Linked DNA regions of Homo sapiens. The protein of the gene in region 3 purifies or fractionates together with the protein of the main gene of each other region. This does not show direct contact. Each region holds a gene or a part of one and is shown on either strand. Other genes may lie near its edges.

What was found.
Region 1: the proteins of ATP2A2 (region 3) and LONP1 fractionate together in Homo sapiens (co-fractionation; one large-scale study listed by BioGRID). This does not show direct contact.
Region 2: the proteins of ATP2A2 (region 3) and NOTCH2 fractionate together in Homo sapiens (co-fractionation; one large-scale study listed by BioGRID). This does not show direct contact.
Region 4: the proteins of ATP2A2 (region 3) and BCKDHB fractionate together in Homo sapiens (co-fractionation; one large-scale study listed by BioGRID). This does not show direct contact.
Region 5: the proteins of ATP2A2 (region 3) and ATP6V1A fractionate together in Homo sapiens (co-fractionation; one large-scale study listed by BioGRID). This does not show direct contact.
Region 6: the proteins of ATP2A2 (region 3) and NDUFS1 fractionate together in Homo sapiens (co-fractionation; one large-scale study listed by BioGRID). This does not show direct contact.
Region 7: the proteins of ATP2A2 (region 3) and SLC35G1 purify together in Homo sapiens (co-immunoprecipitation; one study listed by IntAct). This does not show direct contact.

What each region holds. Positions count from the first base shown.
Region 1 is NC_000019.10:5,699,647-5,703,146, reverse strand, and holds part of LONP1 (lon protease homolog, mitochondrial isoform 1 precursor), read left to right. Parts: intron 1-2,219; coding exon 2,220-2,358; intron 2,359-3,500. UniProt on the Homo sapiens protein: ATP-dependent serine protease that mediates the selective degradation of misfolded, unassembled or oxidatively damaged polypeptides as well as certain short-lived regulatory proteins in the mitochondrial matrix.
Region 2 is NC_000001.11:119,965,163-119,968,662, forward strand, and holds part of NOTCH2 (neurogenic locus notch homolog protein 2 isoform 1 preproprotein), read right to left. Parts: intron 3,071-3,500; coding exon 2,915-3,070; intron 2,460-2,914; coding exon 2,271-2,459; intron 1,328-2,270; coding exon 1,214-1,327; intron 405-1,213; coding exon 291-404; intron 1-290. UniProt on the Homo sapiens protein: Functions as a receptor for membrane-bound ligands Jagged-1 (JAG1), Jagged-2 (JAG2) and Delta-1 (DLL1) to regulate cell-fate determination.
Region 3 is NC_000012.12:110,340,247-110,343,746, reverse strand, and holds part of ATP2A2 (sarcoplasmic/endoplasmic reticulum calcium ATPase 2), read right to left. Parts: intron 3,089-3,500; coding exon 2,753-3,088; intron 1,520-2,752; coding exon 1,299-1,519; intron 516-1,298; coding exon 313-515; intron 1-312.
Region 4 is NC_000006.12:80,340,671-80,343,720, reverse strand, and holds part of BCKDHB (2-oxoisovalerate dehydrogenase subunit beta, mitochondrial isoform 1 precursor), read right to left. Parts: exon of another isoform or gene 1,081-3,050; intron 58-1,080; coding exon 1-57. UniProt on the Homo sapiens protein: Together with BCKDHA forms the heterotetrameric E1 subunit of the mitochondrial branched-chain alpha-ketoacid dehydrogenase (BCKD) complex.
Region 5 is NC_000003.12:113,795,535-113,799,034, reverse strand, and holds part of ATP6V1A (V-type proton ATPase catalytic subunit A), read right to left. Parts: intron 3,160-3,500; coding exon 3,096-3,159; intron 793-3,095; coding exon 589-792; intron 1-588. UniProt on the Homo sapiens protein: Catalytic subunit of the V1 complex of vacuolar(H+)-ATPase (V-ATPase), a multisubunit enzyme composed of a peripheral complex (V1) that hydrolyzes ATP and a membrane integral complex (V0) that translocates protons.
Region 6 is NC_000002.12:206,145,945-206,149,444, forward strand, and holds part of NDUFS1 (NADH-ubiquinone oxidoreductase 75 kDa subunit, mitochondrial isoform 1 precursor), read right to left. Parts: intron 3,153-3,500; coding exon 3,076-3,152; intron 1,891-3,075; coding exon 1,809-1,890; intron 1,718-1,808; coding exon 1,587-1,717; intron 1,145-1,586; coding exon 959-1,144; intron 1-958.
Region 7 is NC_000010.11:93,900,478-93,903,977, reverse strand, and holds the end of SLC35G1 (solute carrier family 35 member G1), read right to left. Parts: intron 3,227-3,500; coding exon 2,488-3,226; 3' UTR 154-2,487; downstream 1-153. UniProt on the Homo sapiens protein: May play a role in intracellular calcium sensing and homeostasis. May act as a negative regulator of plasma membrane calcium-transporting ATPases preventing calcium efflux from the cell.

The DNA.
Region 1 (3,500 bases), on a different chromosome or scaffold from region 3:
TGCAGTGGCACGATCTCGGCTCACTGCAAGCTCCGCCTCTCGGGTTCATGCCATTCTCCTGCCTCAGCCTCCCGAGTAGCTGGAACTACAGGTGTCCGCTGCCACGCCCAGCTAATTTTTTTTTTTTTTTTTATTGATCATTCTTGGGTGTTTCTCGCAGAGGGGGATTTGGCAGGGTCATAGGACAATAGTGGAGGGAGGGTCAGCAGATAAACAAGTGAACAAGGGTCTCTGGTTTTCCTAGGCAGAGGACCCTGCGGCCTTCCGCAGTGTTTGTGTCCCTGGGTACTTGAGATTAGGGAGTGGTGATGACTCTTAACCAGCATGCTGCCTTCAAGCATCTGTTTAACAAAGCACATCTTGCACCGCCCTTAATCCATTTAACCCTGAGTGGACACAGCACATGTTTCAGAGAGCACAGGGTTGGGGGTAAGGTCACCGATCAACAGGATCCCAAGGCAGAAGAATTTTTCTTAGTACAGAACAAAATGAAAAGTCTCTCATGTCTACTTCTTTCTACACAGACACGGCAACCATCCGATTTCTCAATCCTTTCCCCCTTTTCTATTCCACAAAACTGCCATTGTCATCATGGCCCGTTCTCAATGAGCTGTTGGGTACACCTCCCAGATGGGGCGGCTGGCCGGGCGGGGGGCTGACCCCCACTCCTCCCTCCCAGAGGGGGCGGCTGGCCAGGCAGAGGGGCTCCTCACTTCCCAGTAGGGGCGGCCGGGCAGAGGCGCCCCTCACCTCCCGGACGGGGCGGCTGGCCGGGCGGGGGGCTGACCCCCCCACCTCCCTCCCGGACGGGGCGGCTGGCTGGGCGGGGGGCTGACGCCTCCACCTCCCTCCCGGATGGGGCAGCTGGCCTGGTGGGGGGCTGACCCCCCCCCCAACCTCCCTCCCAGACGGGGCGGCTAGCCGGGCGGGGGGCTGACCCCCACTCCTCCCTCCCGGAGGGGGCGGCTGGCCGGGCAGAGGGGCTCCTCACTTCCCAGTAGGGGCGGCCGGGCAGAGGCGCCCCTCACCTCCCGGACGGGGCGGCTGGCCGGGTGGGGGGCTGACCCCCCCACCTCCCTCCCGGACGGGGTGGCTGCTGGGCGGAGACGCTCCTCACTTCTCAGACGGGTCGGTTGCCAGGCAGAGGGTCTCCTCACTTCTCAGGGCTGCCGGGCAGAGACGCTCTTCCCCTCCCAGACGGGGTCGCGGCCGGGCAGAGGCGCTCCTCATATCCCAGACAGGGCGGCGGGGCAGAGGCGCTCCCCACATCTCAGATGATGGGCGGCCGGGCAGAGACGCTCCTCACCTTCCAGACTGGGCAGCCAGGCAGAGGGGCTCCTCACATCCCAGACGATGGGCGGCCAGGCAGAGACGCTCCTCACTTCCCAGACAGGGTGGCGGCCGGGCAGAGGCTGCAATCTCGGCACTTTGGGAGGCTAAGGCAGGCGGCTGGGAGGTGGAGGTTGTAGCGAGCCGAGATCACGCCACTGCACTCCAGCCTGGGCACCATTGAGCACTGAGTGAACGAGACTCCGTCTGCAATCCCGGCACCTCGGGAGGCCGAGGCCGGCGGACCACTCGCGGTTAGGACCTGGAGACCAGCCCGGCCAACACAGTGAAACCCCGTCTCCACCAAAAAAATAGGAAAACCAGTCAGGCGTGGCGGCGCGCGCCTGCAATCGCAGGCACTCGGCAGGCTCAGGCAGGAGAACCAGGCAGGGAGGTTGCAGTGAGCCAAGATGGCAGCACACAGTCCAGCCTCGGCTCGGCATCAGAGGGAGACCATGGAAAGAGGGAAAGGGGAGACCGTGGAAAGGGGAGAGGCAGAGGGCAGAGGCAGAGGCAGAAGCATTTTTTGTATTTTTAGTAGAGACAGGGTTTCACCGTGCTAGCCAGGATGGTCTCGATCTCCTGACCTTGTGATCCGCCTGCCTCGGCCTCCCAAAATTCTGGGATTACAGGCGTGAGCCACTGTGCCTGGCCTGTAAATTGTTTTATAGAGATGGGGTCTTGCTGAGTTGCTCAGGCTGGTCTTGAACTCCTGGGCTCAAGTGATCCTCCCACCTGGGCCTCCCAAAGAGCTGGGATTACAGGCGTGAGCCACCGCGCTCAGCCCCACACATGGGTTTCAAGCCCCTTGCAACCACCCAGCCAAGTCCAGCAGAGAGACAGGCAGCTCGTGAGCTCCACTCAGCATCTCTCCATCTGTCCCCTGGCAGTGTCACCCGCAACTACCTAGACTGGCTCACGTCCATCCCTTGGGGCAAGTACAGCAACGAGAACCTGGACCTGGCGCGGGCACAGGCAGTGCTGGAGGAAGACCACTACGGCATGGAGGACGTCAAGAAACGCATCCTGGTGAGCCCAGTGTCTGGCCTGTTGTGGATTTGCATGTGGGTGCCCGGGCCCAGGACTCTTGTGTGCTGTGGGTTGAGATTTCAAAGGAGCCCCCTGGTGAATTCGTAGGCCTGGGGGTGCTGGTCGGGGGGATCCCGGCGGAGGTAGCATCCTGCCCTGCCCCCGAGGGCTCGAGGATTTCCCAGGTGGACTGAAGTCATGCCTGACGGGCCGGGCATGGTGGGGCTGCTTGTAGTCCCAGTTACTCAGGAGGCTGAGGCGGGAGGATCACTTGAGCCCAGGAAGTTGAGGCTGTGGTGAGCTGTGATCATGCCACTGCACATCAGGTTGGGTGACAGAGTGAGACCCCCATCTCTACAAAAAATTTTAAAATTGCGGCTGGGCGCTGTGGCTCATGCCTGTAATCCCAGCACTTTGGGAGGCTGAGGCATGCAGATCACCTGAGGTCGGGAGTTGAAGACCAGCCTGACCAACATGGAGAAACCCCATCTATACTAAAAATACAAAATTAGTTAGGCGTGGTGGCGCATGCCTGTAATCCCAGCTACTTGGGAGGCTGAGGCAGGAGAATCGCTTGAACCCAGGAGCCAGAGGTTGCAGTGAGCCCAGATCGTGCCATTGCACTCCAGCCTGGGCAACAAGAGTGAAACTCCGTCTCAAAAAGGAAAAAAAATTTTTTTTAATTAGCCTGGTGTGATGTTGCGTGTCTGCAGTCCCAGCTACTTGGGAGGCTGAGGTGGGAGGACTGCTTGAGCCCGGGAGGTGGAGGCTGCAGTGAGCTGTGATGCACCACTACACTCCAGCCTGGGTGACAGAGCGAGACCTTGTCTGAAAATTAATTAATTTTAAATTAATTTTTAAAATATCACTCCTGAGACATTGGAAACCAGGCAGGCAGGTGGGAGTCAAAGGTTAAAAAACAGGAGTCAGAGCCTGGGCATGGTGGCTCACACCTGTAATCCCAGCACTTGGGGAGGCCGAGGCGGGTGGATCACAAGGTCAGGAGTTCGAGACCAGCCTGACCAACATGGTGAAACCTCGCCTCTACTAAAAATACAAAAAAAGTAGCCAGGCATGGTGACTCACACCTGTAATCCCAGCTACTCAGGAGGCTGAGGCAGGAGAATTGCTTGAACCCAGGA
Region 2 (3,500 bases), on a different chromosome or scaffold from region 3:
CCTAAATGAGTCAATCTAGCCAGCTGGAAACTTACTGCTGCCAAAATCTGTCCCAGAAAGACATGGATACCAAATGGAAATATCTGGGCCAGACCACTGTTGTGGTGGAGGAGGCAGGTGCTGCAGAAAAAGAGAGCAGCAAAAAATTTGTTAGAAACAGCTCTTCCTAAACACAGAGGAGCCTCTGGGAGTGGACTGGCCTGGCACAGCAGCTAGCAGAGGACAGGGACAATCACCCTATTTTGTTCAGATGGACCTACCAAGGAGATGAAAAGTGAGAAGAATCTTACCTGTGGCACACTGGCATTCATAGCCATTCGGGTGATCGATACACTTTGCCCCATTCAGACACGGAGTACTGGAACAGTCATCAATATCAATCTGGCAAACTGGCCCAGTGAAACCTCAAAAAGGGACAGTGGTAACATGAGTCAAAGGATTATCTTGTGTCTCCCTTTACCATGAGAATGATGTTAGGTTACTAGCAGGGCTTATACCAATGGGTCAATAAGCCTATGCTTTATTATTCTCCCCAACAGGTAACTGGAATAACCAGGTGACACTCAGGGAATCAGAGGCACTTGTGGTGTGTCTCTACCATTGCTTCTTCACAGACAGACTTCACTTCTAAATGAAGGATGTAGGAAGTGAAATTTATAGGTGGAACCTCAAACAAGTAACTGTAGCTTCAGAGGCAACAGAAACCTTCTCTCTGAAGATACAATGGGGTAAGATGCAATCTATGGAGGACAATTTGGCATATCTTCAAAAATAGCTTGAGGAAAAAAAAGGAGAGACAGAGAATCTTGGAAAAATTGGCATGTGTTGTCTGTTTCTGAACTCATGGGTGAAATGTCTAAAAATAACAGTCTCACAGAGGGCCTTCAAGAATATGACCCATGGGAAAAAAATAAAATCCCGAATAGCCTACAACTAAGGCTTCTGTGAGGTATGAGCATTCTGAAATATATACACAGACGAAGAGGTCATGGGCCATTCAAGAATAGACTTGGACTTTTGGCCACAAAGGACTTGTAAGATATAGTAGCTAAAACAAATTCTCTATTTCTGTACACACACACTCCTATCACCAAGCACTTACTCTAATGATTTCCTCATGCACAGCCCACACACATTCTCTCCCTGCTCTCTTCCCTGTGGTCAGTTGGCTTTGTGCTTTAAGAGAAAACAGGGCCAGGTCGTGGGCACTTACCAGGAGGACACAGGCACTGGAAACGATTGACTTTATCCACACACTGCCCATTGTTCACACAAGGGTTGCTCTGACATTCATTTATTTCTAATTCACAATGCACACCTTTGAAACCTAAACAAAACAGACCACACAAGTGGCTTAAAGAGAGAGAAAGGTGTATTCCAGACAAGGAAGCACAAATTTGCAATGATAACTACATCCTTTGCGAGTACACACATTTCTGCAGAGAAAAAAGGAACTCTGCCATGATGAGAAATAGTCACTCCAAGTGTCAAGCAGGACAGGGCATACTGTGAAATACCCATGTCACTGTGAAAAGCGGGAAGGGATTACATTAAAAGACATTGGCAAGACCTAGCATATAAACAAGGACTGCTCCACATTTTCTGTGATAAATCCATACTTTCTGGACTGTGGAAGGCCCAAAATGTCCCCACTCTATGTTCCTAAAGACAAGCTGAGCTGGAGCTGTTGTTGCCTTCAGGGTGCAGTTCAAGGTCAGCAGTGCCTTTCAAGGCTGGAGTGGCCGGCAGCCTTAATCAGGCAGAGCAGCCAATGTTAGCCATCATTTCAAGCTGGATTTGGCTGTATCCTCTCAAAATTAAAGACATGGTCTATGCAGAAGAGCTCCAGAATACAACTAAACATGTACTGCACTTTAGATAAATGGAAACTTCCTATATAATTGTGGATAAAATTTATTTATATAAATGGAATGGTATGGTATTTGTAATTACATGAAGGTATCAGGAAAACTTGCTATTTAAAGGATTCTTACAGTAAATCATTTTTGAAATTTTCTATTACATGTGGATTTTGATATAACAGGCTTGTTTAATTTGGTCTACATAGCTTGATGAATTCTAGCACTGCCTTACTCTTTGAGTAAGGAAGGTTTGCTTGTGAACCCTGACTTCCTCTAGTCCCCAGTCAGCAAAGGAAATCAAATGCTGACAGAGCTCATCAGACTGCAATAGTATACTGAATGCTCTACCAAGAGAAGTTCAGAACAGTCCCTCCTCTCTAGACCCAACATGCTGATGGGCCCATTTACCTGGCATGCACAGACATGTGAAGCCTCCAATCTTATCCAGACAGGTAGCATCATTCTGGCAGGGGTCTGAATGGCACTCATTGATGTCCATCTCACAACGAGGTCCTGCATAACCCTTCAGACACTCACAGTGGAAGGCGCCATCCGTGTTCACACATTTTCCTGCATGCTCACAAGGATTGCTATTGGCTGAAAGACACAAGTACCAATTACTGGGATCAAAGCAGTTGAGTTTCCACAAATGTGAACAATAGAAGAGCATCTGATGGTTATAGCATCAGGGCCAGGCCTTCAATAATATCATTCCCAATTTTCTATTTTTTTTTCCTTAATTTAAAAAGAAATAAAAGCGGAGTATCCTCAACTGTTATGCATTTCTGCTATTGCAGTTTCTGCCCAAACTGTCATTGAGGTAGGGCTTTATATTAAGAATCAAGTACATACGTTTCATACAGTTAATCCCCAGAATGGAATATATGGTTATGGCTATGCTGAAAGGTCACTTGTAAACACTGGCCATGTAGCAAGAGTAATCTGAGGTTTGGGTGTATGTAATTTGCTTCTACAGTAAAATGTGCTTCAGTTTAAACATTTGCTGAGCTCAACAGACACTTCACAGAACAGAAAAAGTTCTGCTTACTCACCCATGGCACATTCATCCACATCTTCTGTGCAGTCAGCCCCTTTGTAGCCTTGTGGGCAGGTGCAAATATATTGCCCATTTAGGGGGTTGGTGTCACACAGTGCCCCCTTGTGGCAAGGATTGCTGATGCATGCATCATCCAGATGACACAGGAGACCTGTCACAGGGTGGGGCAAAGGACAACTAAGAGAAAATGTCTCTCACTTGGGGAAGAGCTTTCTCTTTCACCCAGGAGGGAAAACCTCATGATCAGTTCCTCAGAATCCAACATGGAGATTTATACGCAACTTCTGCTTTGCCTGACCCTACCTTGGGGACATGCTTGGCCACCAGCAAAGCACCTAGATGCAACCCTAGACTCTGACCCTGAGCTCTCAGCTAGACCTCTCCTCCAGGACAGAGACATCTACAGGCCAGAAGATAAGAAGACGGAGACAGGAAAGTGGAGCTATCTTCCAGATAGTGTGCCAGATTTAGCAAATAAAATAGAGGATGTCCAGTTGAATTTTAGATAAACAAGAAGTAATTTTTAGTATGTCTCAAATATTCCATACATCCTATATTTTATCCGGAATCCTACTTCCCCA
Region 3 (3,500 bases):
ACTCTTGGAAGGCAGAACCTAGCGTGAATCATTCTTATCCCTTTGCACAGAGGGCTCAATCTGAAAACCCTGATGTTTAATTGCTCATTCAGAAAAGCCCAAGTAAGGGCAGGATGCTAAAACTGGAACTAACTGTGAAAGGACTCTGGTAAATTGGATGTATAGTTCATCGAACTGTAAGAGGGCATCTCTGTCTTTTGCTACCCTATACGGGGATAGAAGAAAAAACACGCTTTTAAGGGATGAATTTACAAAATTTCAGCTCACAAACATTTTGTTTAAAAATCAGTAATATAAAAAAATTGTACTCACAGCCAATAGCCAAGTAACGGAAAAAGAGCCACCCGCTGATCAATGGTTCCTTTGGGTTCCGGGGAGGTTTATTCATGATGTCCAGATCAGGAGGGTTGAACCCCAGTGCAGTGGCAGGCAGGCCATCTGTCACCAGATTGACCCAGAGCAGCTGAACAGGAATCAAAGCCTCGGGAAATCCAAGGGCTGCTGTCAGGAAAATACTGTTTCCAATCAAGAAAAGAAGACAAAGAGAGCCCAAATGACTTCTGGCCACTATTTAAAGAGCATCATCAACCCGCCCTCCTCCAGAAAAATAAATGACAACAACTTCAGGTAATCTGTAAAATACTTATACCCAATTTTGAATTAAAGCTCAATTTTACTTAGTTTATTACTTAAATTCAGATGACTGAGGCCAGGTGCGGTGGCTTATGCCTGTAATCCCAGCACTTTGGGAAGCCAAGGTGGGCAGACTGGCTGAGCTCAGCAGTTAAGAGACCAGCCTGGGCAACATGGTGAAACCTCATTTCTACTAAAACACAAAAAAATGGCAGGGAGTGGTGGCGCATGCCTGTAATCCCAGCTGTTCGGGAGGCTTGAACCCAGGAGGTGGAGGGGACAGTGAGCTGAGATCGTGCCACTGCCCGAAGCCTGGGCGACAGCGAGACTGTCTCAAAAAAATAAATAAAAATAAAAAAATTATTAAGCTGACTGAGATAAAGCCAACTTTTGGAGGGCAAGAATTTCATGTGACTACCTGGTTAATGTTAGCTCAGTCTCACGTTAAAGAGGATTCTTTGCACATTGGGGCAGCTGCAGACAACCCTCCCGAGGGCCAAAGCACCACTGCTTCCATAAGGCATTTCTGTCTTGCCCACTCCCCTCTTCCAACTCAGGCACAAAGACCAAAGCTGCTGCAATCTGGAGAGCAAACTGCGAGAACTGGGCTCCATGACCCATTTAGATAAAGGCGTACAGTAAGTGATGCTGTCACAGAGACCTACCAGACAACTTCCCCGACGTTGGACGAGATGAGGTAGCGGATGAACTGTTTCATGTTGTTGTAGATTGCCCGCCCCTCCTCAACGGCAGCCACAATGGTGGAGAAGTTGTCATCCGCCAGGACCATCTCAGAGGCGGTTTTAGCCACCGCAGTGCCAGAGCCCATAGCAATGCCAATCTCGGCTTTCTTCAGAGCAGGAGCATCGTTCACGCCATCGCCAGTCTGAAAGGGAAAGCAATGGTTGGGTCAGCCAACTGGCATGCCACATTCATACCCCTAGGCAAAAGCCCACTGAATGGGAAGCAGGAGGAAAATGAATAGAGCCGTAGGTCTCTTGGCAAAGAGTTTTAGAATTTTTGTTTCATAAGTTGGTGTCACAAAACACATTTTACCTAGGAAATGTAAAATTACCAAATAAGTTTACCGAAGTGGGACAAAGGGGACTTCAAATTTATCTGTATTATCTTACTAAAAACAAAAACACAACCTATGTGGCAGTCAAGAGGAAGCACTTGTATCCACATGGATAAATTTCAAGTAGAAAGATGCAGATTGCAAAAATATGCAAATTTTTATTTTTCTGAGATGGAGTCCCGCTCTGTCGCCCAGGCTGTAGTGCAGTGGCGCAGTCTCGGCTCACTGCACGCCTCCTGGGTTCAAGCGATTCTCCTGCCTCAATCTCCCGAGTAGCTGGGATTACAGGCGCCCACCACCACACCCAGCAATTTTTTGTATTTTTAGTACAGACGGGGTTTCACCATGTTGGCCAGGCTGGTCTTGAACTCCTGACCCCAAGTGATTCACCTGCCTCGGCCTCCCAAGTGTTGGGGTTACAGGCATGAGCCACTGCACTCGGCCAAAAAATATGCCTTCAAAAGCATGCAAAAATAATACTGTCTACAGACACAAAAACAGCACTCCCATGTTTTTAATATTTTTGCTAAATTCCAACTTCAGTTACCTCTGGGGGAGAGGAGAGTACACTTATAGTATGTTTCAAAACTAAGATTTTTTTTTAAAAGAGAAGAAAGTAAATTTAACATAATGTATCTGGGTGAAAATCAGGTGAGGGGAAGAATACTGGAAATGCTTCATCAATAGCCAGCTCTTAAAGAACTTAAAAGCAGGGTGATCCAAACAACTGACTGATTACATCCTCAATTTTCAGAAAACTTACAATAAAAACACGTCTCATTTAAAAAAGAGACTAGATCACCAGATTGTTCCTCTGGGACTGATCTGGAAGGCCCTTCTGGGTTTTAAACGACTCTAGGATCTTCCCTGCAAGTAGCACACAACATGCTAACCACTGATTCACCGAATTCTAGAGAAAAGACCCAAATCATGACAAATTCCAAATTAGGGAGCTATGACAAAAAAATTCAGTGGTCAAAATTAGAGGCTACTATGTGCTTGTGTAGCCTGAGTCACCTGTACATGTTCAAACATGCTCACCATAGCTGTAATCTCATCAAAAGACTGAAGAAATTCTACGATTTTAGACTTGTGGGAGGGTTCAACTCGAGCAAAACAGCGGGCGTTCAGGCAGGCGTCTCGCTGGGCGGAGGGGTTGAGTTCATCAAACTCCCGGCCTGTGAAAGCTTTTGACGTCACGTCCTCATCCTGCCCGAAGATGCCGATGCGGCGACAGATGGCCACAGCAGTGCCCTTGTTGTCCCCAGTGATCATGATGACCCGGATGCCTGCTTGCCGGCACAGCTTCACGGAGGAGGCCACCTCGATTCTCGGAGGATCCAGCATGCCCACGCAGCCAACGAAGGTCAGATTGGTCTAAAATAAGAGCATCACTTTAAATAAAAGTGGCAAGTTCTAGTTTTTGTCCCCTAGTTTGAAAAATGCCCAGTTAAACATTGAGACAGGTTTCTGCATTTTTTTTCTTTTTTTTTTTTTGAGGCGGAGTTTCGCTCTTGTTGCCCAGGCTGGAGTGCCATGGCGCAATCTCAGCTCACTGCGACCTCCGCCTCCCAGGTTCAAGAGACTCTTCTGCCTCAGCCTCCAGGGTAGCTGGGACTACAGGTATGCGCCACCACACCTGGCTAATTTTGTATTTTTAGTAGAGATGTGGTTTCTCCATGTTGGTCAGGCTGGTCTCAAACCCCCAACCCCAGGTGATCTGCCAGCCTCGGCCTCCCAAAGTGCTGAGATTACAGGCATTTGAGCCACCGTGCCTGGCGGTTTTTGC
Region 4 (3,050 bases), on a different chromosome or scaffold from region 3:
TGTGTCATAACCACATACTCTTGATATAGGAGCCTCTAGGTTCAAGAAACATTCCTCCTGCAGACAGAGTCAGGATGCTTAACTTCAAGAATTTTTTTTACTCACAGAAATGAAATAGTGCAACTTAAAATATTTCACTTACTAAAAATACAATTGCATCTAAGGACATTAAAAATATTTAAGTATACTGTAATATGAAAAAAGCAGGTAACAGCATGTTCGCATGATCCCAGTTTTATTATGTGTTTTCATGTATGCATATGCATTTTATACCTGTATATATATCTATTGTCTAAGCCAAACTGGGATAATATCAAATACGCTGTTCTACGAATATAAATGGAAAGAATTATAAAAATGCAACAAATGTTCACAGTAGTTAACTCTGCAGCATGAAACTGGCAATAATATATACCTTCTCATTTTCTGTTTTTCTCACATTTTATACAATGCACATGTATTACTTTCATAATAAATGTTTGTAATTCCTCCATGCCCCAGCCAGACTGAACTTCTATCAGTTACTTAACTGTGTTCTCATCTCTCTCATAGTCTAGCTTTTGCAGATAATGCTGGGTCTCTGGCCACTCACACCCCAAGTCCACAGCTCTTTGCCTGACTGATGTGTGTACAAATCTCAGGTTATTACCTGAGGAATCACTCCCGCTGGGAAGCCTTCCTTGACAGCACCTCCCCAGCCCTACAGGGCAGATGAGGAAGGGGCTTGTGCTCTGAGCTCCCAAAGCACCGAACTCGGCATAATCCATTGTAGTTGCCCAATTATCTGTCTTCCATGAGAGACTATGAGTCCCATGAGGCTAGAGATCTGATTTAAACATGAAAACCTCAACCACAGTAGAACACTGTAGAAAATTATTTTCAGGAGAAAAAAAATGTTACTCAAGTAAAATATTCAAATTTGAATTTATTTTGAAATAGGGTCTCACTCTCTCGCCCAGGCTGAAGTGCAGTGGTGCAAACACGGCTCACTGCAACCTCGATCTTCCAGACTCAAGCAATCCCACCTCAGACTACCAAGTAGCTGTGACCACTTGTGCACATCACCGACGCCTTCCTTTGTTCCTTTTCTTTTCGTTTTTTTCTTCCCTTTCCTTCCCTTCCTTCCCCTTTCTTCCCTTTCTTTTTTTTTTTTTTTTTTTTTTTCAGAAATGAGGTCTTCTTATGTTGCCCAGGCTGGTCTCAAACTCCTGGGCTCAAGTGATCCCCTAGCCTCAGCCTCCCAAACTGCTAGGATTACAGGTGTGAGTCCCCAAGCCCAGACTGAAAATAAAACGTTTAAAGGCTTAAAAAATTTAAAAGGGATATGTGATTAAACTATTCTAAGGAAAATAATATTACTTTTAACATTCACAGCTATTACTTAAAATAAAACCTTCATATTTATTCATGTGTTTACACATTGCCTTGCTTTATAAAGGATTTAAGGAGGTCCAGTTTTTTTTACATATTATACTATGTTCACATTTTAATTTGAGCAAAATTTTTACATGAAGGAATCATGATACCTCATGCTTTATCCCTACCCCCTGTGTGATTTCTTCCAGTGACAAGTGTATTGGGGCAGAAAGAAAATGCAAACAGCACAAATTAGCTCCAAAGAGAACCTACTGGACATTTACAGACCTCCCTTTGGCCCCAATAACTATCATGATTTACAATATCAAACACCAAATAAGTGTTGGTATTCCCTAGCAACTGGAAATCTCCACGAACAACTTTAGGACTTTTAATACACACGGTTTAAAGAGCCACCTAAGAGATTCCACTACTAATAAGCTGAAAAGAGATGACAGACTGGGTGGATTATTTCTTGTTTGCAACAAGTAATTTTAAAGGGCTTTAAATTGTCAATTTGGGATTAAGTCGGTTTTATTACTTTAGCTGACACTGGGCTGTTTTTCCATCTTCCCTGAATACTGAACTCTTCATAAACAAGCTATCCATGGAGAATTAAGGGCAAAATATTTTACTAAACGTCTTTGATTTTATACCTGTTATAAAATGACTGTTCTCTTGAACCAGTAACTTGGAAAGCTGGCCTACCACAAGAAGTTCTGTTGGTATTTGTTAAAATCACTCCTTTCAGCATAATGACTAACATCATCAAACTGGATTTTTATTTTTTCAAATAGCAATGCTCCTAACTCCTCAAGAATGCAAGCATCACTCTTTCCAGGAATACATCTATATGTCTGCACGAGCATAGAAAAACATCTGCTGTGAAGACACACTTGAACTGTAAACAGTGGTTACCCTTTGAGGCTGGGAATGACAAGGAGGTGAGAGAAGACTCCACGTTGTGCTTTATAATATATTGTTTTGGTTTTTCGAAAACAGTATTAATTTTGTAATAAATGATGCTGAAATAAAGGAAAACAGTAAAGTGAATAATGATTTTCTTATATGAATAAAAGTTCCTGTGTTATGTTACATAAATTTGTGATTTTACACATAGGGCTTCCTTAATTTGGAAACGATTACTGTAAATTATGTAGCATTAAGTTGTTATAATACGCTATTATAAGTATATAAAATATAAAAATCATGGAAGATAATTCAAGGATATATAAGAGAAGACTACGAATAGGATATCAGTCTTTTTAAGAATATATGCTAACTGACTGAAACAGCTTGAAATTCTCTTCACCAACAAAAGTATATTAAAGAGCCTTAAGTTATTTCTTCCATGAACTTCACTTTACACTTATTTTTAAGCAGTTGGAAATAAGACCCTTAGGTCAATTAAGCAGCTGTACTTACTTCTCACTGAATTGGTTCACATATAAATAATTTATGTGTGAGTATGTTTCTCTGCACTACCACCAAAACAGAACACCTTGTTCAGCCTCAGTGTTTTCATGCAGAAGCTGTATACATGTACGTACGTACGTATGTACACACACACACAAACACACACACACACACAGAAAAAAAATACCGAATCCCACTGGCAAGTTTGTAGATTAATGAAGACAAAGTATCTCTCCATTATAAATACATGACGCCATAACCATAGCAACCATGTGCCC
Region 5 (3,500 bases), on a different chromosome or scaffold from region 3:
TAATACATGTTAGAATGTTAGCTATCTCCTAATATTAACCTTTTTTGGAATAAATTAGGAGATGACTTTGTAACATGTAATAAAAAGAACAAAACCAGACAAAGAACTCTGAGTACTAACTAGCATTGCATACTATCTGAGAAGTCTTTTCATTCTGGCATTTAATTTGCCTAAATTTAATTACACCATCTTTCCTTGAAGAATCCAAGATACAGGCACAAGAATGTAACTCACCTGTTTAAGGCCAATAGCTAATTATTGGAGGAACTAGAAGCCAATCCTTCTGAAACCTAGCCCTAGCATTCCTACAAAAATGTATGCTAACAAATCCTAAATCTACTACCTCTAATTTGGTTGGTGATGGGTATATTCCATTTCAAGATAAAAGTAAATCAAATGTTTCTTTCTCACATACAATATACCCAAAAACCATGCTAAGTACTATAATGAATAGAAAATTTCAATTAAAAATATTTAATAAATATTTATTTTGCTAGGCAAGAATCTGTAATATCCAAGGCTCTATCTGTCCTTGAAACACCCCAGTGTAACCCACAGATCTATCTTCCATGGAATTTAACAACTCACCTTTCCCACAAGCTGTACAATTTCTGCCAGGTCTTCTTCTTCCTGCAGAATTTCCTTAGCTTTCGTCCTCAGAGGAACGAACTCTGTGAAGTGTTTGTCATAGTATTCATCCAAGGCACGCATATACTTGCTGTAGCTGATGAGCCAATTGACAGAGGGGAAATGCTTACGTTGAGCTAGTTTCTTATCTAAGCCCCAGAACACCTGATTAAAAAAAACACACACACAAAAACAGTAATTTTTCTCAAAAAACAAAGTTAAAAAATACCGAAGCATGTTTGTCCCAACTATGCAATTCTTTTTTTTTTGTTTTTGAGACAGAGGCTTGCTCTGTCACCCAGGCTGGAGTGCAGTGGCATGATCTCGGCTCACTACAACCTCCACCTCATGGGTTCAAACAATTCTCCTGACTCAGCCTCACCAGTAGCTGGGATTACAAGCATGCGCCATCAGGCCCGGCTAATTTTTGTACTTTTAGTAGAGATGGGGTTTCACCATGTTGGCTAGGCTTGTCTCGAACTCCTGACCTCATGTGATCCCTGGCCTCCCAAAGTGCTGGAATTACAGGCATGAGCCACCATGCCTGACCCCTAAATATGCAATTCTACAATTCACTGGTCAAATTATACATCGTTTTAGTATATACTAAGTAAAATTAAAACAGAATAAAACTTGCAGAAAATGACAATAATCTATTTCCTTTCATTTTCCAAGTGCATAATACCTACAAATCGAATTTAAAATTTACCTCTATTTTCTTAATACTGTGCCAAATCCAAAAGCAAAAAGAAAAATTAATTTACTCTTTTGAAAATTATTATGGTACAATAGAACCAGAAAAGGTTTATGTAGATCGAATACACACTTTACTTTGATTAAAAACCTCTAACTGGCCAGGCATGGTGGCTCACGCCTGTAATCCTAGCACTCTGGGAGGCTGAGGCAGGTGGATCACCTGAGGTCAGGAGTTCGAGACCAGCCTGGCCAACATGGCAAAACCCTGTCTGTACTAAAATACAAAAATTATCCGGGCGTGGTGGTGGCGCATGCCTGTAATGCCAGCTTACTTGGGAGGCTGAGGAGGAAGAATTGCTTGAACCCGGAAGATGAAGGTTGCAGTGAGCTGAGATCACGCCACTGCACTCCAGCCTGCATGATGGGGGTGAGATTCCATCTCAAAAAAAAAAAAATTTTTTTTTTAACTGTTCTGGGCCAGGCATGGTGGCTCACGCTTGTAATCCCTGCACTTTGGGAGGCTGAGGCGGGTGGATCACCTGAGGTCAGGAGTTCAAGACCAGCCTGGCCAACATAGTGAAATATTGTCTCTATTAAAAACACAAAAAATTAGCCAGGTGTGGTGGCGGGTGCCTATAATCCCACCTACTTGGGAGGCTGAGGCAGGAGAATCACTTGAACCCGGGAGGTGGAGGTTGCAGTGAGCTAAGTTTGTGCCATTGCACTCCAGCCTGGGCAACAAGAGTGAAACTCCGTATCAAAACAAACAAAACAAAAACATCTAAGTGTTTTGATTAAATTTAGTTGCCTATCATTCACAGGGCCAATCCAACAACAACTGACAGTGATTTTTGTAAGGGCAAACATTCACAGATATTCCATGCATTTCTAACTCTGTTCCCTCTTTCCCCATAATTTAAAACTCAAAATTTTAGCAAACGTTAAAAAGCTTGAGAGTTGTACATTTAGCCTCTGACATTTCCTTTTCTCTGATACTGTCAGAAACACAAGTAAATATTCTGTTTTTCCCACATGAATAATATACACATATCACTTTTTTTTTTTAACTATAGCTCTGATTTGTACACATCTTTTATTTGGGCTTCTTTTAATAGCCAAGCTGGCTACCTATCCACTAAAATTCATGTCTTGTCACTGGAAAGCAAATGCTTAGGCAGAAACTGCATTTTCCAGCCTTGCTTTCACCTGGATGTGGCTAATAGAATGAGTGGAGTGACTGTGTCACTTTTGAATCCAAGGTTCAAAAAAGGTGGGTATGCCTTCTCCACAAGGCCCAGCTCCCTTGTGTCAGCTAGATGCAGATGATCACCAGGCTAGGTGACAGTGGAGTCACAAGATGGAAAGAATCCTGGACTCAGAATTATCACTAAACAGAAGAGAGCCTTGGATCATACTGTGAAGTGAAATAACTTCTGGGTATTACACATTTTTGGGCCTCTTTGTTTCTATAACTAGGGTTACTATGACTTAAAGGATAATACTACTCTAATACTAATAAAATTTTTGCTACCTATATTTTCCACTTATATATTATTAAGTTTATTATAAATCCTATGTAAACAGCTAAGAAAAAAACAGACAGTATTAAAGGCTCTGTGTTAAGAGTGTTTCTAAACCAGACTTTACCATTGCCTATCCTTTAGAGACTAAATTAAATACTTCACAACGATTACATTAGATCGCATTAGAACAGCAGGGGCTGCAGAGAGGAGGAAAGGCTCAGAAGTTGACTATACTAGGGAAAGACATACCTGAACGATACCAAGAGTGGCAGATGTAACTGGATCAGAAAAATCACCACCAGGTGGAGAAACTCTAAATTTAAAAAAAATATGGTCATTACAAAAAAAATGGTCATTAGAAATGCTTATGAAAAATAACATATATATAAATGTTAACTTTTTTTAAAGTCGATTTTAATGTAAATAACTTTTTAATGTAAATAACTTTAGAAATGACCTTTGGAAAGAAAATCTTACCTAAAAATCTTAAACAAAAGCCAGTATTTAAGTTGTAAACAACAATAGAAACTACAGAACACCTTCTATTATGAGACATGAGATAGATATTTTATTATAATCAATTTTATTATTCTAATCAAATAGATGAAGCAAGGAGGAAACGCTCTAAGAAAAAAGTATGGCTTTATGTAGTGA
Region 6 (3,500 bases), on a different chromosome or scaffold from region 3:
AGGCTGCTACATGTGCAGGTGAAACCAGAGAAAGCTCAACCTATTCATAAACTCCTGGATAACTCTGAGACCCAAAGGGCCCAGTGCAAAGTAATAGCTGGGCAAACTTGAAAACAGCCTCAACTTTGAATATGCTCCTCCATCCACAAACAGATCCATTGGCAAAGAACATAACTCTTATTAGGTCACGGTGTTTGAAGTACAATTATACCTGACTACTAAACTATGCAGACACAGGGGAACTCCTAAGAAGCCTCACTTAAAAATAAAACCAAGAATATTAAAATATGTTGAAAGAACCAAAGAAAATCATATTTAAAAATTGAAGGGGATGTATGACAACCACGAATCAGCAAGTAGAGATTCTCAGTAAGGACACAGAAATTACACAGAAACAAAAAGCCAAATCCCAAGTTGAAAAGTATAAAGTTTAAAATTGGATGATAATTTGTTATGTTTTAAGAACCTTAAAAATAATCACACCTCTTGCATCTATCTACTCCATTTCTTGGTTTAATCAGGAGAATGAGAGATATACACAGAAATGTGTAAACAGCAATATTTTTTACAGATTTGTAATCATAAAGAAATATACAAGCTAAATGTCTATTAGCAGAAACTGGCTAAATGACATTCCTCATAGTTGAAAACTTAATAAACAACAACATGGGAGACTATACATTTAAAATGTCAACACTATTAAACTCTTTGGAAGAACACATGAAAAAAATAATTTTGTGGTTGAGTACTTTAGAATTAATTTCCAAGAAAACTACAGTTAATTTGCACAGGTTCAATCCATTCTAACTACTTACCTTCTATTTAAAGGGTTTTACATAAACAAACAAAGTCAACAGACCAAAACAACTGAAACCCAGGAAGAAAATGAACCTTAATATTTTTTTGAATAGTAATGAATTAAGGACAAAAAAACAAATTGTCATAAAATAAAAGATACCTTGTTTCCCAAGGCCGGGCAGTAAAGGCATAGGGCTTAGAGGTTAGGGCACCTACAGGGCAGATATCAATGATATTCCCAGACAGTTCAGACATGAACATCTTTTCAATGTATGTGCCAACTTGCATATCATTTCCTCTGCCTGTTGTTCCCAAATCATCTACTCCTGCAATCTCACTTGCAAACCTACAAGATAAAAAATGTGTCATCAATGGTCAAGTCCAGCAAAATTATTTCCTTTCTTATTCATGATCACAAAGAGATGATTTTCCAAACACTAAAAAGAAATGAGTATATTTTTAAAGGTGAGCACAGTCCTAGAATAAAAAATAATGAAATGTTTGCATTTAATTGAGGTGTAACACACAGGCAGAAACTTGTACAAATCATATGTGTACAACTCACCAAGTTATGAGTGAAAGCAAATGCTTATAGATTTTAATTTTTAAATCCACCTGAAGTTGGTACTAAATGAAAGTGAACTTATTTTATTCATATATCAGAAACAGCATCCCTCTTCTCCCACCCAAAAAAAGTAGCCATTCTTTCCAATGTTATTATTCATCAAATTGTGACTATTAAGTATACAATTATATTCTATAATAGAAAAAAAAGGAAAAAAAGTTACCTGATGCAGCGAGTACACTGTATACATCTTGTCATGATGGTCTTTACCAATGGCCCAATGTTCTTGTCTTCCACAGCACGCTTCCCCTCTAAAAATCGGCTCCTATCATTTCCAAACATCATGGACTGGTCCTTAAGTAGATTATGAAAGAGTCAATCTCATGCTGCTAATAAAATTAAAATCTGAGACAACCAAAAAGATTGACAGAATTCTACTACATACCTGCAGATCACATTCACCTCCCTGGTCACAAATAGGACAGTCCAATGGGTGATTTGCTAATAAGAACTCCATCACACCTTCCCTGTATGAAAATTGTAACATATAAAATGACTCTCAAATACACACACACTGACATTAACTGCTGGCACTCAAAATGACCTATAGACTTTATTTTTTTTTTTTGAGATGGTGTCTCGCTCTGTTGCTCAGGCTGCAGTGCAGTGGCACAATCTTGGCTCACTGCAGCCTCCTGCCTCCACCTCTCAGGTTCAAGCGATTCTCTTGCCTCAGCCTCCCGAGTATCTAGGATTACAGATGCCCACCACCACACCTGGCTAATTTTTGTATTTTTAGTAGAGGCAGGGTTTCATCATGTTGGTCAGGCTGGTCTCGAACTCCTGACCTCAAGTGATCCTCCCGCCCTGGCGTCCCAAAGTGCTAGAATTACAGGCGTGAGCCACTGTGCCAGGCCCACATATAGGCCATTTAAACAACCTTCATAGATGTATATTTGTTATACAATTAATAGTAATTTTACATTTAATATCAGAAATGCCAATTATCTATCATTGTGGTAATATTTTTTTTAAGAGACGGGGTCTTGCTATGTTGCCCAGGCTGGACTCGAGCTCCTGGGCTCAAGTGATCCTCCCGAGTATCATTCTGGTAGTATTAAACACACAATCTGGAAAATGCTTAGAGGAGCCTAGAATAAAGTATCATTAGAGAACATAGAAAATTATGATTTTTGGTCAGGTTTGGTGGCTCACGTCTGTAATCCCAGAACTATGGGAGGGAGGCTGAGGCAGGATGATCACCTGAGGCCAGGAGTTCAAGCCCAGCCTGGACAACATAGTGAGACCTCGTTTCAAAAAATAAAGAAAATTGTAACTTTTAACAATACCGAATGATCAAAAGTTGCTGAATGGTCCTCAGAAAATATTCACATTAATTCAAAATAAAAACAAACACAATCAATCCCAGTATAGTATAGTAGTAGCTTAGTAAGTCCAGATTCACCCTTCTTCACAAGTTGAGCAAGTTACTAAAGAAGGATTTTTAATGCTGATCCTAAAGCTCAATACCATAAACTCCTGACTTCACCTTCTCTACTATGTAGTACTCACTTCTATTGCTCCTAGAAGCTGAGCACACCAACTTCTTCCGAGTTTGATATTAAATTCTTAATCTATGGGAAGGTCTAAATACCAAAATGTGCAATTTTCTGCTTTATGAAAGGGTACTACATTGAATAACAATAAAGTACCTGGCTTTTTTGGATTTTTCTGAGTTTGTTAGGATATTCCAACCCTTCATTACTGGCATGGCACAAGCAGCTACAACCTGGGATTTCAATGAAAAAAAAAAATGTGTATTTGTATTTATTTGTGATTACAAGCAACTCAATATATAAAAATGTTAAATTATATAAAAACATTAAATTATACATTTGATAACAGGCAAAGAATAGGGTATTTTTTAAAACTGAATTTTGTTAAGTTTTCATATTCATAATACGATGATCTAGTACTTTGCATTTATCTCAGAAATAAAACATCCTGGTTTTTAGGTTTATTCTAATAGTCAATGCAATTTTTTATTCTGCTCTGAAACAGAACACCAAATAACTGCTTTGATTAGCAGGCACTATTGAATAAAAAAATTGCATACACCAAAATGAAATTAAACTAC
Region 7 (3,500 bases), on a different chromosome or scaffold from region 3:
CTTGATAGTACAAGTGGGTCAGACAGTTTAAACTTTGAGATTATATCCCAGCTGAATGGCTAGAGGTCAATCTCCTACAGAAAATATATTTTGAAGCATAGGGTTGAAAGGGAAATAAGTTATATATTTGCTATAATCATAACAACCAACATATAGCTTTCTTTCATATTATTTTATTAGTACTTATAAAAACAATTTATGAAAATATTTTCCTTTTCAAGATATAGAAACTACGCTCTGCAAAATATACATACCCATAGTTGTTACAATACATATCCTTGTATACACCTTGGACATTGTGTTTAAGAATCACACCCTGTAAGGGCTAGAAGAAACATTTTCTCTAACCTCAGTTATATAGTGTGACATTCAAGTACTTAAACTACATTGTTCAAACAAAACATGTCTCTAGTGTATGGGCCTAAAGGGATTTAACTTTCTAGGTGCCACTGATTCTTTCACTGTGCAAGGTAAAGAACTGGAAGAGGGTTCCCTGAGAGTTAATTCACCTTAGGTAGCTCAAGTAGTGGTTTACTGTCCATACTTTATCATGGAACTAAGGAAGGGAGGAAGGCCATGGAAATTCAACTTGGGCAGGTCTCCTCTCTATCATCCCTATCTACGAAGCATGGCCCCTATGTGATGATTTCTGAGACCTCTAGAGTTCTCAAATGCTCCTGATTCTGTAATTATCTAAGATATTTGCAGAATGATGTTTTTGCAAGTCTAAATTCCAATACTGTAAATCAGGTGGAACAGAGATGACTCACCTACATAGACTTCATTTAGGGTTTGTCAGGTGTCAAGGCAATTGATAAAATCAGCAAGCCAAAAATTCCCCCATTGGAACTATTGGAAAAGATTCTTTCTCACTAAGGCACGAACCCCAGAAGCCAAGTTCCTCTTTGCTTTGGAAAAATTATGATGAGAGGGTAGGAAAGAGCCTATAACCTTTCAACTCTGCAGGCTTAAGATAATGACAGATGCTTCATCTGACACAGTAAGAGCTGGAAGCTATTGCAACCTCACCAATAAAGGGCTCATTACAACAAGTAACCATTTATGTATACTCCCTAAGTCCTGACTAACCTCCCAAGCTTTTCTAGATATTAAATTCTCTCTAACTGCAAAGTATTGGTCTGATGAAGTTCCAGGTGTAAAACGTGCTGTTTGAATTCATGGCGTTAGTGTCATGGTGCTGCATCATGGTATGGCACTGACATTTAACATCATGCTGATAAACTAGAATTCATAGTGATTTTATTTCAATGCAGGAAACTATGAAAGTCAATCAAACATGGATTCACAAGTCTTTACATTTAATGTATAACATAAAGCATTATTACACATAATTTCATAACTATAAAAATAAGTTTAATACATTACCATATTTTAAAAAATTACTTTAAAAACATATACTCCAAAGTCTTCTATTTCATTTAGAGAATAATGGAGGTATCTATTAGGGTGAATCATATGAAACGATGGTTTTTCTAAGTTAAAATAGTAAAATCTTGGCAATTACATATGGTTCAACCTAATAAGATCCTGAGAAAATTTTATTTGGCATCACACTATAAATTCAAGGGGAATTTATAGAAAATCACATTTCTAGTGAAGAGAAAACACTTCAGGATGGAAACGTGCACACTGGTCATGCCAAGATTTCTCTTTGTGATTTAGAGATCTGAAATCTTGGAATGTTAAGAAAAATTTAGTGCAGTTTCAAAAAAAAGTGAGGACAATTAAAATTATAGTATGCTAGCTGCAGTTGCTAATGCCACTGAAACAAAACTACTAGCCAAATTTGGCAATTTAAGTGTTTTAGAGGTGACATAATAAAAATTCCAGCATTAAAATGAAAAGGCACAAATATGAGTTACAAGTATGATAATCATTTATAAAATCCTTGAAAATAAGGCCAATTCATTTGTATTATTAACACCATTAAGCAGGCACCTATTCTAAGCTTCAACTTCATCCTCCTAAATAGAATAAGGTTGCAAATGAATTATCAACATAATACTAATTATAGCAGCATTATCAATTGTCTGGAAGGCATAGTTTATAAAGATCATGGTAGTAGAACCAAGTTTCTTAGGCTCTACACTGCTAAAAGAATATCTAAAATAGCCTCCCCACCCATATCCCATCAGTACCAAAAATACATTTTAAAAATTACATAAATATTACTAGCCATAAAATGTTTTGGTTTTTCTTCAAACAATGAGCTCTCCTCTCACCAACTTGACCCCAACAACAACAACAAAAAAAACCAAAACCAAAACCAAAGCTACCAAAAAATTGTTACACCAAACAGACTAGCTATTCTTAACTAAAGACATACTATATTCAAAAATGGTACTTTAGGCAATTTATTAAATACAACCAATGAAGAAAATGCAGATTTTCCAGATGTGTGCGTATGCTGTATGTGAATTAGGTGATGGTGTACTTGAAAAAAATATGTATTTCAGCAATGATGCTTCATTTGGAACTTTGGTACCATTTACGAATGGCCGCTCCAACATTACTGGCTACTACGCAGAGAGCACCACCCACTGTCCACCACGTTGGCACATTATTAAAGAAAATAATCTGAAAGATAAAAGCAAAGACCACATCCATTGTCTTCATTATTGCTACTGGCCCTGCTTTTTCTATTTGAAGTGCTTTTGTGATAAATATCTGACCCCCCAAACCAAAGAGCCCAATGAATATGAGAAATAGCCTGTCCAACCCACAGTAAGGCAGACTCCACTCTCCTAATACAGAGAGGATGATGACACTTTCAACGAGGCCAAGTACTACATAATACCAAATGCTCAGAAAGTAGTCCACAGATTTTCCCATTTTTCTTAGGATAACTAGAGTCGATGCAGCAAATACGGCACTTCCAATTGCTGCGAATGTTCCCTTAAGGTGGCCTGAATAGCTTTCTTCCATCCCCGAAGTGTCGGAACCAAACAAAAATGGTGGTCTCACGATAAGGATCACTCCAGTGATTGTGAACACGGTGAAAAGAGCATCCCAAGGGCTATATTTTTCCTTGAGACATATCCAAGCAAATATGGACGTAAACACTGGACTGCTAAACGTGATAACTGTGGCATCAGCGAGGGACATTGTCTGGTAAGCATAGTATATAAGCATCATGGCGGTAGAACCAAGGACTCCTCTGAGAATGAGGAAAATTCGTTGACCTTTTGGGCCTATAAACCCAGTTCTGTAAATTCAAATGAAGAAATGCATATTAAATGAAATTAATATTTGTTTTTAAATTACAATTTGTAATTAAACATTATTTTAAAAGTACTAAATATCAAAAAATGAGGGAATAGTAAATTAATTATAATATCCACAAATGAATATTATATACTTTTTAAAAATAGTATTTTCTAAGTATAGTTAATGACAGTAAAGTGTTCACAGTAAAAGCAAAACCAGTGCAAGTGAATTACATGCATAGTAAAATTATAATTCAATTAATATAGATATTT